2 separate regions of the Homo sapiens genome follow, and region 2 is linked to region 1. The links come from fine-mapping of genetic effects on plasma protein levels. Region 1 holds a variant in brackets. A gene starts in the other region. All regions are shown on their reverse strands.

Region 1 (5,386 bases):
CAGGCACGTGCCATCATGCCTGGCTAATTTTTGTATTTTTAGTAGAGACGGGGCTTCATCATGTTGGCCAGGCTGGTCTTGAACTCCTGACCTCAGGTGACCCACCCACCTCATCTTCCCAAAGTGCTGGGATTACAGGCGTGAGCCACTGCGCCCTGCCAGGCTTTTTAATAATAAAGATTTAATTGTGCATTTTAGTCTGCTGTGATGTGCTGCAATAACTTTTCCTCCCCACAATTACCCAATGGCCCAAAATATCAAGAAGTTTTACTACCTACAAAATATTGTGTAGGTGGCATTTTCAGAATAAAGCAATTAGGATAGCATTAAGATAAGAACAATTGGTACAAAAAAGTAGTAAAAGTCATAATGAAGACTGAGATTTATCAGGAGCTAGATGTTGAGGATAAAAGTGGTTAACCTTGCAAGAACATCCAAAGATGTTGGAAAGGATACTGAGCTACTCACCACTTGTAAAATACTGTTCAAGACAATTTTACTTCATTATTAGAGAATAGGGACTGACATCAGGGCCCCATTTTTAGAGGGGATAACAGTACGTACTGCATCAATGTTTTAAAATTAAACAGAAAAATGTATACAAAATACCCAGCACAGTAACTATTAATGAGTAGGTATTCTATAACTATAAGCTTTCTTCCCATTTTGCCTCATGATATATAGAAGAATAAAGACAGAGATGAGACATGTACCTAACTCCTAAATGAAAGATTATTCTATTTCTCAATCACTCCAACTTCCCAAAGTCATTCATCAATTAGGGAATATTAATTATTGTCTTTGCCAGAGCCAGCACTCCCCAAACTTGCTTCTATAATAATATCCCCTGAAAAGAGGCAGTACCAACCATTAAGATGGACATAGTCCCATGACAATTATTTGAGTTGCCATAGTAGTTACAGTAAGGGTGATGGAATGAATAAAACGCCAAGCTAAATGTGTTGATTAAGATCCCTGATGCAGCCAGTACAGAGCTGGTGATATTCATTCCTAGACTACCTCGGACCTAGAAAGGAATGAAAATCAATTAAACAATCCAACAACATCCTCAGATATATCTCCATGAATCACTTTACACCCACCATCTCTTTCTTACTGCCATCTATCATTATCTTGATTATTTCAATAGTCTTCTAACTTGTCTTGTGGTTTCAACTCTAATCTCTTGGCAAAACACAAACATGATCTCATTATTCCGCAGCTTCAATTCTTCAGATGATTCCCGTGGGCACATAATATAATCTCCAAATCTCTTTAGCAGGGTTTTCAATGTCCTTCACACTTTAGCTGGACAGCCCTGTCTGTGTCCTTCCCTGCCACTCCTTGCTTCTGATGCCTGATTTCTTATCATTTTTCTAAATGCTGTTTGCCTGTCATGCCTCTATACCTTTTGTATATTATCTCTCTCAGCAGTATATTCTTTTCTGTACGTTCTCTTCTCATGGATAAAGGTAAGGAGGCTTTTAATAAGAACTAAAATTGCTGACTGGGCGCAGTGGCTCATGCCTGTAATCCCAGCATTTTGGGAGGCCGAAGCGGGGTGGATAATCTGAGGTCAGGAGTTTGAGACCAGTCTGACCAACATGGAGAAACCCTATCTCTACTAAAAATACAAAAATTAGCTGGGCGTGGTGGCACATGCCTGTGATCCCAGCTACTCGGGAGGCTAAGGCAGGAGAATCACTTGAACCTGAGAAGCGGAGGTTGCGGTGAGCCGAGATCACGCCATTGCACTCCAGCCTGGGTAATAAGAGTGAAACTCTGTCTCAAAAAACCAAAAACCAAAAACCAGAAAAAAAACAAACAAAAAAGAACTAAACTTGCACAGCAAAGTGTGAGGAGTATGAGTAATGTGGCTGCAGCCGGAGGGGACACTAGGGAGTTGGGTTAGGCCAGATTTGGAAAACCCATATTGATCATGCTCCAGAATTTGATATTTATCTTTTGAACAAAGAAAACTCAAATATGGACTTTAACTAGAAAAAAACATTTATTCAGATATGGACTTTCGCATTGTATTGGCTTTATGAAAGGCATCTTGGCATGAGAATTACATTTTAAATTTGCTTCTTATGTAATAACCTTATTGTGAATTTCTTTTATTGAAAACTCAAAATCCTTTCTGGACACAGTTGGAGTCTACATTATAATCAATGGGTCAGTAAATATTACACAACACCAATGCTTGGTGTCACTATCATGGGCTGACTCATGCTGCAGGGTTTTGTTGGAGCGGTCCCACTTGATATTTCTTCTCAATAATTCTCTATATCTTCAAAAAGATTCCCTCCACAAGCGTAAGATTCCCTACCTTGCCAAAATATCCAGTCCTATGTCAGCAATTAGCCTGACTGCAGTTTTTGAAAGACAGATTCTAGTAGGTAAAATGCACAATCGCTCCTGATTTTTTACAAACAAAGAAACAAAACCTGTTTTACACCCTGGCAGAATACATTTTTTATTAATCCTTCCTTTTTTTGATACCAAAAAAAGAAAATATTACTCACCAGGCCTTTTGTAGTTCTAATTCCTGCTGCAATTGACAAGGATCCTGAAATAATAAACTAAAAATGAGAGAAAAAATGAAGGTAAAAAACTTTAAGCCAGTATTGGGAGTCATAACTTACTAAACTTAATTCTAAATTAGATAGATATGTTAATCAGACCAATTATCTTAAAGAAAACCACAAAGGTTTGCACATTATTTTCCCTTTTCCCAGAAAGAACAGAGAAATAATACCAGATAAATCCATGGGAGAATTTATCAAGTTTTTCAAATATCTAACTGAAATGATATTAAAACTGTTTGAGGGCACTAAAAGATAGTTTCCAAACTCCTGATACAAAGTAATTCTTACATGGTACCAAAATTGATGACTATATTTAAACAAAA[A/C]ATACACTAAAATTATTCTCATTTAGAATTTTTTTTTTTTTTTTTTTTTTTTTTTTGAGACGGAGTCTCGCTCTGTCGCCCAGGCTGGAGTGCAGTGGGGCAATCTCGGCTCACTGCAAGCTCCGCCTCCCGGGTTCACGCCATTCTCCTGCCTCAGCCTCCCGAGTAGCTGGGACTACAGGAGCCCGCCACTACGCTGGGCTAATTTTTTGTGTTTTTAGTAGAGACGGGGTTTCACCGTGTTAGCCAGGATGGTCTTGATCTCCTGACCTCGTGATCCGCCCGCCTCGGCCTCCCAAAGTGCTGGGATTACAGGCGTGAGCCACTGCGCCCGGCCAATATTTTTAAACTTATAAGCAAAATAGTAGCAAAAAAATGTAAATTCCCAATTAGATGATGACTAGAATATAGTAGTTCATTTGATTCCATCAATAGGCAATTATTTTTCATTTAGCTAAAATAACTAGTCAAGTTGGTTAGACTCTCTATCTTTTAATATTCAATTGTTGGAGTTTTTAATTTGCTTTTCAAATTTGATTTCAGATGATTCAAAGATTATATCATAATATAAAAAATACAGAACTAATAAAAAAGCTCAATAAATTTATTTAACTTCCAAATACCCAGACATAGAGATGATTCATGATATCTAAATCACCACTGGAATAAAACCACTAGAGGGAATCACCCATCATATGATATAAAATACATCATGAACATTTGGGATGTTCCTTCAGCTCTACAAACATTTTTTAATATTGAAATATTCTAATTTACACAATTAATGAATTTAAGAAAAAAATTACATGCTTATTGCTATTCATGTTTACAGTGTTGATAGGCTAGGACATTTAATACAATTCAACATTATTAGTAACTGCAACATTACTGGTAAAATATAAAGAATTATTGGCAGGGCGTGGTGGCACACGCTTGTAATCCCAGCACTTTGGGAGGCTGAGGCGGGTGGATCACGAGACCAGGAGATCGAGACCACAGTGAAACCCCGTCTGTACTAAAAATACAAAAAAATTAGCCGGGTGTGGTGGCGGGTGCCTGTAGTTCCAGCTACTTGGGAGGCTGAGGCAGGAGAATGGTGAGAACCCGGGAGGCGGAGGTTGCAGTGAGCCGAGATCGTGCCATTGCACTCCAGCCTGGGTAATAAGAGCGAAACTCTGTCTCAAAAAACCAAAAACCAAAAACCAAAAAAAAAAAAAAAAAAAGAATTGTAATTTCTGTAACATGATAGAAATCTGTCTCAGTCTAAAAGTCTTTATTATGTTTAATGATAAAAATGTAGGATCATTTCATTAAAGTCAAAATCAAGATAAAGATGCTGACTATTATGTAATACTATTCTGGGTATATTTACCAAAATAATTACATAAGAAAAATAGTTGGAACAAGTGGTTTAACTATTCTTATTTAAGTATGAACAATATATATTGCAAACATTCAAGAACGTGAACTAAAAATTACCATAAACTATTCTAAAAATTCAATAAGGCACCTTGGAAAAACATTCTATACAGAAATTATATATACACATTACAAGTGTGTATGTATGTCTGTGTATTTGAAGATGGGATTGAATAAGAGGACTTCATTTGCCACAGGAAAAAGTATGTATGTACTATCTCAGAGGAAAAAACAAGGAATGTGAAACATATACAGAAACAGAACTGAAGAGGCCAAAAATAAGAGGAACTTGTGACTGGTTCTTGGTATTGGTACTTATACTGTATGAAAGAGAAAAAGGAGGCACTTCATAGAAGAGGTTTGGAAAAAAAGGTTGAAAGAATAATGGAAGGTAGCCGCAGAAAAGAGTTCACCAATTAAGTAAAGGCTCATCTAATGGAACACCTACGAAAGTCTCAGTGATGTCTCAGCGGACAAATGGCTCCTGCAGTTCCTGGTAATCTACTGAACATGTGTGGAAGGCTTGCACCATGTAAGCTGGTTTTTAATGTGATCTTGAAAAGGAAACGGAAATAAAAACAGAAAACTAAGTAGTTAGATGTATGCAATTCTGAAAATACATTGACCCTATTTGAATCTTCATTCCTGTACCAAGCAGTTGTGATGTTGGGTTAGTTACTTAACCTCTCTTCATCCATAAAATGATTATAATGAAAAATCAGAAGTTCGTGGTGATTGTTTGAAATGAAATTGCACATATAAAGCACTAAGTAGAGTGTCCACATGATAGTAAGAGTTTAATAAGAGCTGTTATTGGCATCAGTATTTTTGGATATATGAAGTATTGTGCAGCTTTCTAGAAGTAAAACACAGCTTTACTGTTCTTCCAATCTTGCACTTCTGCTGTAAACAGGTGAAGGGGATCAAAAAGCAAGCTCTTCTATAAAACTCTACACTACCTCATTCTCAGTTTTAGAAATAAATGGAAACCCTGCAATGCTAGAATAGATTCCCTGATTCTAACATAAACCCAACTTATAAATTTTATTTTTC
Region 2 (5,386 bases), not on the chromosome of region 1:
CCTTCCCAAAGTGCTGGGATTACAGGCGTGAGCCATCGCACCTGGCTTTACCAGTGTTTTTATTTGTTTACTATGTATGTATCATTAATTTAACCCCAGAGGGTGACTGGTGAGCCTTCTTGGCTCAACCCTGAAGACCATGAGGGAGCCTGTGGTTTGGGGATGGGTCATATGTCCCTGAGCAGGGCAGCTTCCTTCTCTGGGAGAAGGCTTGGTCACAGGGAGGCGACTGAAAGTAACACTGCTGATGGATCTCTTTCTACATAAAAGGTGCTGGGCTAGGGTGACAAGAATACATATGACATTATTCCATATACCAGGACTTACAATCGAGTGACAGGTATTGCGACCATCATTCCAATATGAGGCAAAGTTTGATAAGAACTATAGGAGAGACTGCAAATTTAAGAGAGACAGGTTGGGAACAGTAAATTCTAATTAGAAGACTTGATTATTATAGCTTTGTAGTAAGTTTTGGAATTGAGAAATGTTAGTCTTTCAATGTTGTTCTTTTTTTTTCCTCAAGATTGTTTTGGCTATTCTGGGTCCCTTGCATTTCCGTGTGATTTTTTTTTTTTTTTTTTTGAGACAGAGTCTCGCTCTGTCACCCAGGCTGGAGTGCAGTGGTGTGATCTCGGTTCATTGAAAGCTCTGCCTCCCAGGTTCACACCATTCTCCTGCCTCAGCCTCCCGAGTAGCTGGGACTACAGGCGGCCACCACCACACCCGGCTAATTTTTTGTATTTTTAGTAGAGACGGGGTTTCACTGTGTTAGCCAGGATGGACTCGATCTCCTGACCTTGTGATCCTCCCGCATTGGCCTCCCAAAGTGCTGGGATTACAAGCATGAGCCACTGCGCCAGGCCTCCGTATGAATTTTAGTATCAACTTGTCAATTTCCGCAAAAAGGGCAGATGGAATTTTGACAGAGATTGTATTGAGTCTGTACATCAATTTGGGGGTGTACTGGCATCTTAACAATACAAGTCTTCCAACCTATCAACAGGGGATAATTTTCCATTTGTTTAGATCTTCTTTAATTTTTTTGATGATGTTTTGTAGTGTTCAACGTACTTGTATTTCTTTTTCTTTTTTTTTTTTGAGACGAAGTCTCTCTCTGTCACCCAGGCTGGAGTGCAGTGGCACGATCTCAGCTCACTGCAACCTCTGCCTCTCAGGTTCAAGCGATTCTCCTGCCTTAGCCTCCCGAGTAGCTGGGATTACAGGTGCCAGCCACCACACCTGGCTACTTTTTGTATTTTTAGTAGGGACAGGGTTTCGCCATGTTGGTCAGGCTGGTCTTGAACTCCTGACCTCAGGTGATCCACCCACCTTGGCCTCCCAAAGTGCTGGGATAACAGGCATGAACCACCGTGCCCCGCCATGTCTTGTATTTCTTTTGTTAAATTTATTCCTAAGTATTTTATTCTTTTTAATCCTATTGTAAATGGGATTTTTAAAAATTATGTTTTTGGATTGTTTATTTCTAGTGTAAGAAATACAACTGATTTTTGTATATTAATTGTGTATCCTGCAACCTTGCTTAGCTCATTTATTATCTTTAATAGTTGTGTGTTTGTGTGTGTGTGTGTGTGTGTATGTGGATTCTTTAGGGTTGTTTTTTTTTTTTTTTTTTTGAGATGGAGTTTCGCTTTTGTTGCCCAGGCTGGAGTGCAATGGCGCGATCTTGGCTCACCGCAACCTCCGCCTCCCAGGTTCAAGCAATTCTCCTGCCTCAGCCTCCCGAGTAGCTGAGATTACAGGCATGCACCACCACGCTCAGCTAATTTTGTATTTTTAGTAGAGACGGGGTTTCTCCATGTTGAGGCTGGTCTTGAACTCCTGATCTCAGGTGATCTGCTCACCTCAGCCTCCCAAAGTGCTGGGATTACAGGCATGAGCCACTGCGCCTGGCTCTTTAGGGTTTTTGATATACAAGATCATGCCATCTGTAAGTAGAGATAGAGATAGTTTTACTGCCTCCTTTCCAATGGGGATGTATTTTCTGTTTCTTGCGTAATTGTCCTGGCTGGAACCTCCAGCACAGTGATGAAATAGAAGTGATGAGAGCAGAACACCATGTCCTATTCCTGAGCTTAGGGGAAACATTCAGTTTTTCACCATTAAGTATGATAGTAGCTATGGGTTTTTCATATATATACATATATATATATATATGTATATATATATACACATATATATACATATATATATGTATATATATATACACATATATATACATATATATATACACATATATATACACATATATATACACATATATATATACATATATATATACACATATATATATATATACATATATATATATATATACACACTTTTTTTTTTTTTTTTGAGACAGAGTCTTACTGTGTCACCCGGGCTAGAGAGCAGGGGTGCAATCTCGGCTCACTGCAACTGCCGCCTCCCAGATTCAAGCGATTCTTGTGCCTCAGCCTCTTGAGTAGCTGGGATTGCAGGTGTGCACCACCATGCCTGGTTACTTTTTGTATTTTTAGTAGGGACCAGGTTACACCATGTTGGTCAGGCTGGTCTCGAACTGCTGACCTCAGCTGATCTGCCCGCCTAAGCCTCCCAGAGTGTTGGGATTGCAGGCGTGAGCCACTGTACCCATCGGTTTTTCATAGATTTTTAAAAATCAGGTTGAGGAAGCTCCCTTTCACTTCTAGTTTGTTGAGTGTTTTATCACGAAGACGTGTTGGATATTATCAAATGCTTTTTCTGTGATTATTGAGTTGATCCTATATGTCTTTTCCCCATATATATATATATGTTTTTTTTTTTTTTAAGACGGAGTCTTGCTCTGTTGTCCAGGCTGGAGTGCAGTAGCGCGATCTCGGCTCACTGCGAGCTCCGCCTCCCGGGCTCACGCCATTCTCCTGCCTCAGCCTCCTGAGCAGCTGGGACTACAGGCACCCACCATCACGCTCGGCTAATTTTTTTTTTGTATTTTTAGTAGAGACGAGGTTTCACTGTGTTAGCCAGGATGGTCTCGATCTCCTGACCTCGTGATCCGCCTGCCTCGGCCTCCTAAAATGTTGGGATTACAGGCATGAGCCACCACGCCCAGTACCCGCTTCTGAATATTTTAAGAAGGGCATCTTGCCAGTGGACTCTAGTCCCAACTTAGGTCTCAACACAGCTAGGAGGGGAGATGTGTGACTGTTCTATTTTGTTTGTTGGCTAGTCTGACTTAAATACTTATTAGTATTAGTATTGTTATTATTTTTTGAGACAGTCTCGCTCTGTTGCCCAGGCTGGAGTGCAGTGGTGCAATCGTGGCTCACTGCAGCCTCGACCTCTTGGGATCAAGCGATCTTCCCACCTCAGCCTCCTGAGTAGCTGGGACTACAGGCATGCGCCTGGAATATTTTTGTATTTCTTTTTTTGTAGAAACAGGGTTTTGCCATGTTGCCCAGGAAGGTCTCGAACTCTTGAGCTTAAGTGATATGCCTACCTCGGCCTCCCCAAGAGCTGGCATTACAGGCTTGAGTCACCACTCCCAGCCTGAAGCATTATTATTATTATTATTATTATTATTATTATTATTATTATTAGAGACAGAGTCTCACTGTGTCACCCAGGCTGGAGTGCAGTGGCATGATCTCGGCTCACTGGGACCTCTGCCGCCTGGGTTCAAGCGATTCTCCTGCCTCAGCCTCCCGAGTAGCTGGGATTACAGGCACCTGCCACTGCGCCCGGCTAATTTTTGTATTTTTAGTAGAGACGGGGTTTCACCATCTTGGCCAGGCTGGTCTTGAACTCCGACCTCAGGTGTTCCACGTGCCTCGGCCTCCCAAAGTGCTGGGATTACAGGTGTGAGCCACCGCACCCAGCCAAAACACTATTATTAAAATCACTTATTTGTAAACAGGTAATATTTGCACATGATAAGTACAAATCATTTAGTAAAAAGTCAACGGTGACAGGCTTGCTTTGTTTTATTCCCTTTCGGCAAACAGGTGCCCATTTCCTCGCATTTTGTCTATGGTGCCTTTCTTGCAACAAAGGCAGAGATGAATAGCTGCTACAGAGACTCAGGGCCTACATATCAGAGAACATTTTCTATTAGGCCCTTTACAGAAACCTTCGCTGATTTTTTTTTTTTAGTATTTTACCATTTCAGACAATGTTGCTATGCTATCTTTGTATATCTGTCATTTTGCACATGGGAGTTTCTGTAGAATGAATCTCTCTATGTGGAAATGCTAGGTCTTAAGGTGTCAGCATTTGTCGTTTTGATAGGTGTTACCAAATAGCCCTCTAGGGAAGTTGAACTAATTTATACTGTCTTCAGCGAAGCATGCTTGGACCTGTTCCCCACAGCCTCCACTAACCTTGTTAACATCTTGATACTTGCCGATCCGAGAAGGGAAACACGATGCTCATTGTAGTTTTAATTTGCATCTATCTGATTATGAATAAAGAGTTAGCATCTTTTCAAGTCTAAAAATCTTAAAAACAAAACTCCTGAACTTTTCCCGCCCAACAGACTCAAGACTCGTGACCCGGCCGTTGGCACGACGCGGGACGCCGGTGTGGCAGTGGCGGAAGAGGCAGATATCGCGGACCACCCCCGCGCCCCCCAATTCCTTTCAACCAATTCCCTCCCAGCCGCGGAGCCCCGCCCCCAGTCCGCCTCTGGCCAGCTTGGGCGGAGCGCACGGCCAGTGGGAGGTGCTGAGCCGCCTGATTTATTCCGGTCCCAGAGGAGAAGGCGCCAGAACCCCGCGGGGTCTGAGCAGCCCAGCGTGCCCATTCCAGCGCCCGCGTCCCCGCAGCATGCCGCGCCCCCGCCTGCTGGCCGCGCTGTGCGGCGCGCTGCTCTGCGCCCCCAGCCTCCTCGTCGCCCTGGGTGAGTGGATCGCGCCGCCCTCTGCCCCTCGCCCCTCCTCCCCGCGCCGCTCGGAAGTTTGCCCGGCGCCCGCCCTCCACCTCCACTGTTGACAAACTTAGACAAAGCCCCGGGGACCGGGCTGGGCAGAGGGGCGGCTTCTTCCGCTGCGCCCTGGCGGGACAGGGGGATGCGGCCCTGCTGTCTCTGCGCTGGGGCTTTTGGGCTGGGACTCGGGACATCGGGTGACAGCCCTGCCGCCCCCAGGGATGCGGCTTACAGATAATGACAAAGGAATCCGCTGTGTCGGGCCTCTCTTTTCCCTGGTGAAAAATGAGGCCAGGGAACTGCGTTTGACTTTCGAACCCCTTCCACCTGGGAGATTCTAGGACTCTAGTATGGATAAGTCTTGTCTGGATAACTTTGTCCTGGCCATCTCCCTGCCAACTCCAGTTGGCTGGACAGTTCATTGGATTTTTGCGCTCCCAATTGTCCGTGCCTGGTCACATAAGGGAAGGGCCGGGGAGT

Alleles and levels. Positions count from the first base shown, and alleles are read on the strand shown. Strength reflects both the effect of a copy and how common the allele is.
As copies of C replace A in region 1, the plasma level of the protein whose gene starts at base 4,747 in region 2 goes up (moderate association).

Evidence for each region. PIP is the posterior inclusion probability: the model's chance that the variant is causal. The UK Biobank Pharma Proteomics Project read protein levels with antibody pairs (Olink). The fine-mapping took linkage between variants from a reference panel, not from the people measured, so its PIPs are less certain.
Region 2: MFGE8 starts here. The variant in region 1 is fine-mapped to the plasma level of the MFGE8 protein (UK Biobank, PIP above 0.99).

What each region holds. Positions count from the first base shown.
Region 1 is chr11:60,298,200-60,303,585 of GRCh38, reverse strand. MS4A4A (membrane spanning 4-domains A4A) reads right to left here. Exons shown (of 7, transcript NM_148975.3): 4 at 2,529-2,585; 5 at 869-1,027. Among named protein-coding and RNA genes, the nearest start is that of MS4A4A, 20 kb to the right of the region's middle. The variant A/C (reference allele first, on the strand shown) is at 2,915.
Region 2 is chr15:88,912,740-88,918,125 of GRCh38, reverse strand. MFGE8 (milk fat globule EGF and factor V/VIII domain containing) reads left to right here and starts at 4,747. Exons shown (of 8, transcript NM_005928.4): 1 at 4,747-4,879. The coding sequence starts at 4,807. RefSeq lists a cis regulatory region at 67-300 and an enhancer at 5,006-5,386.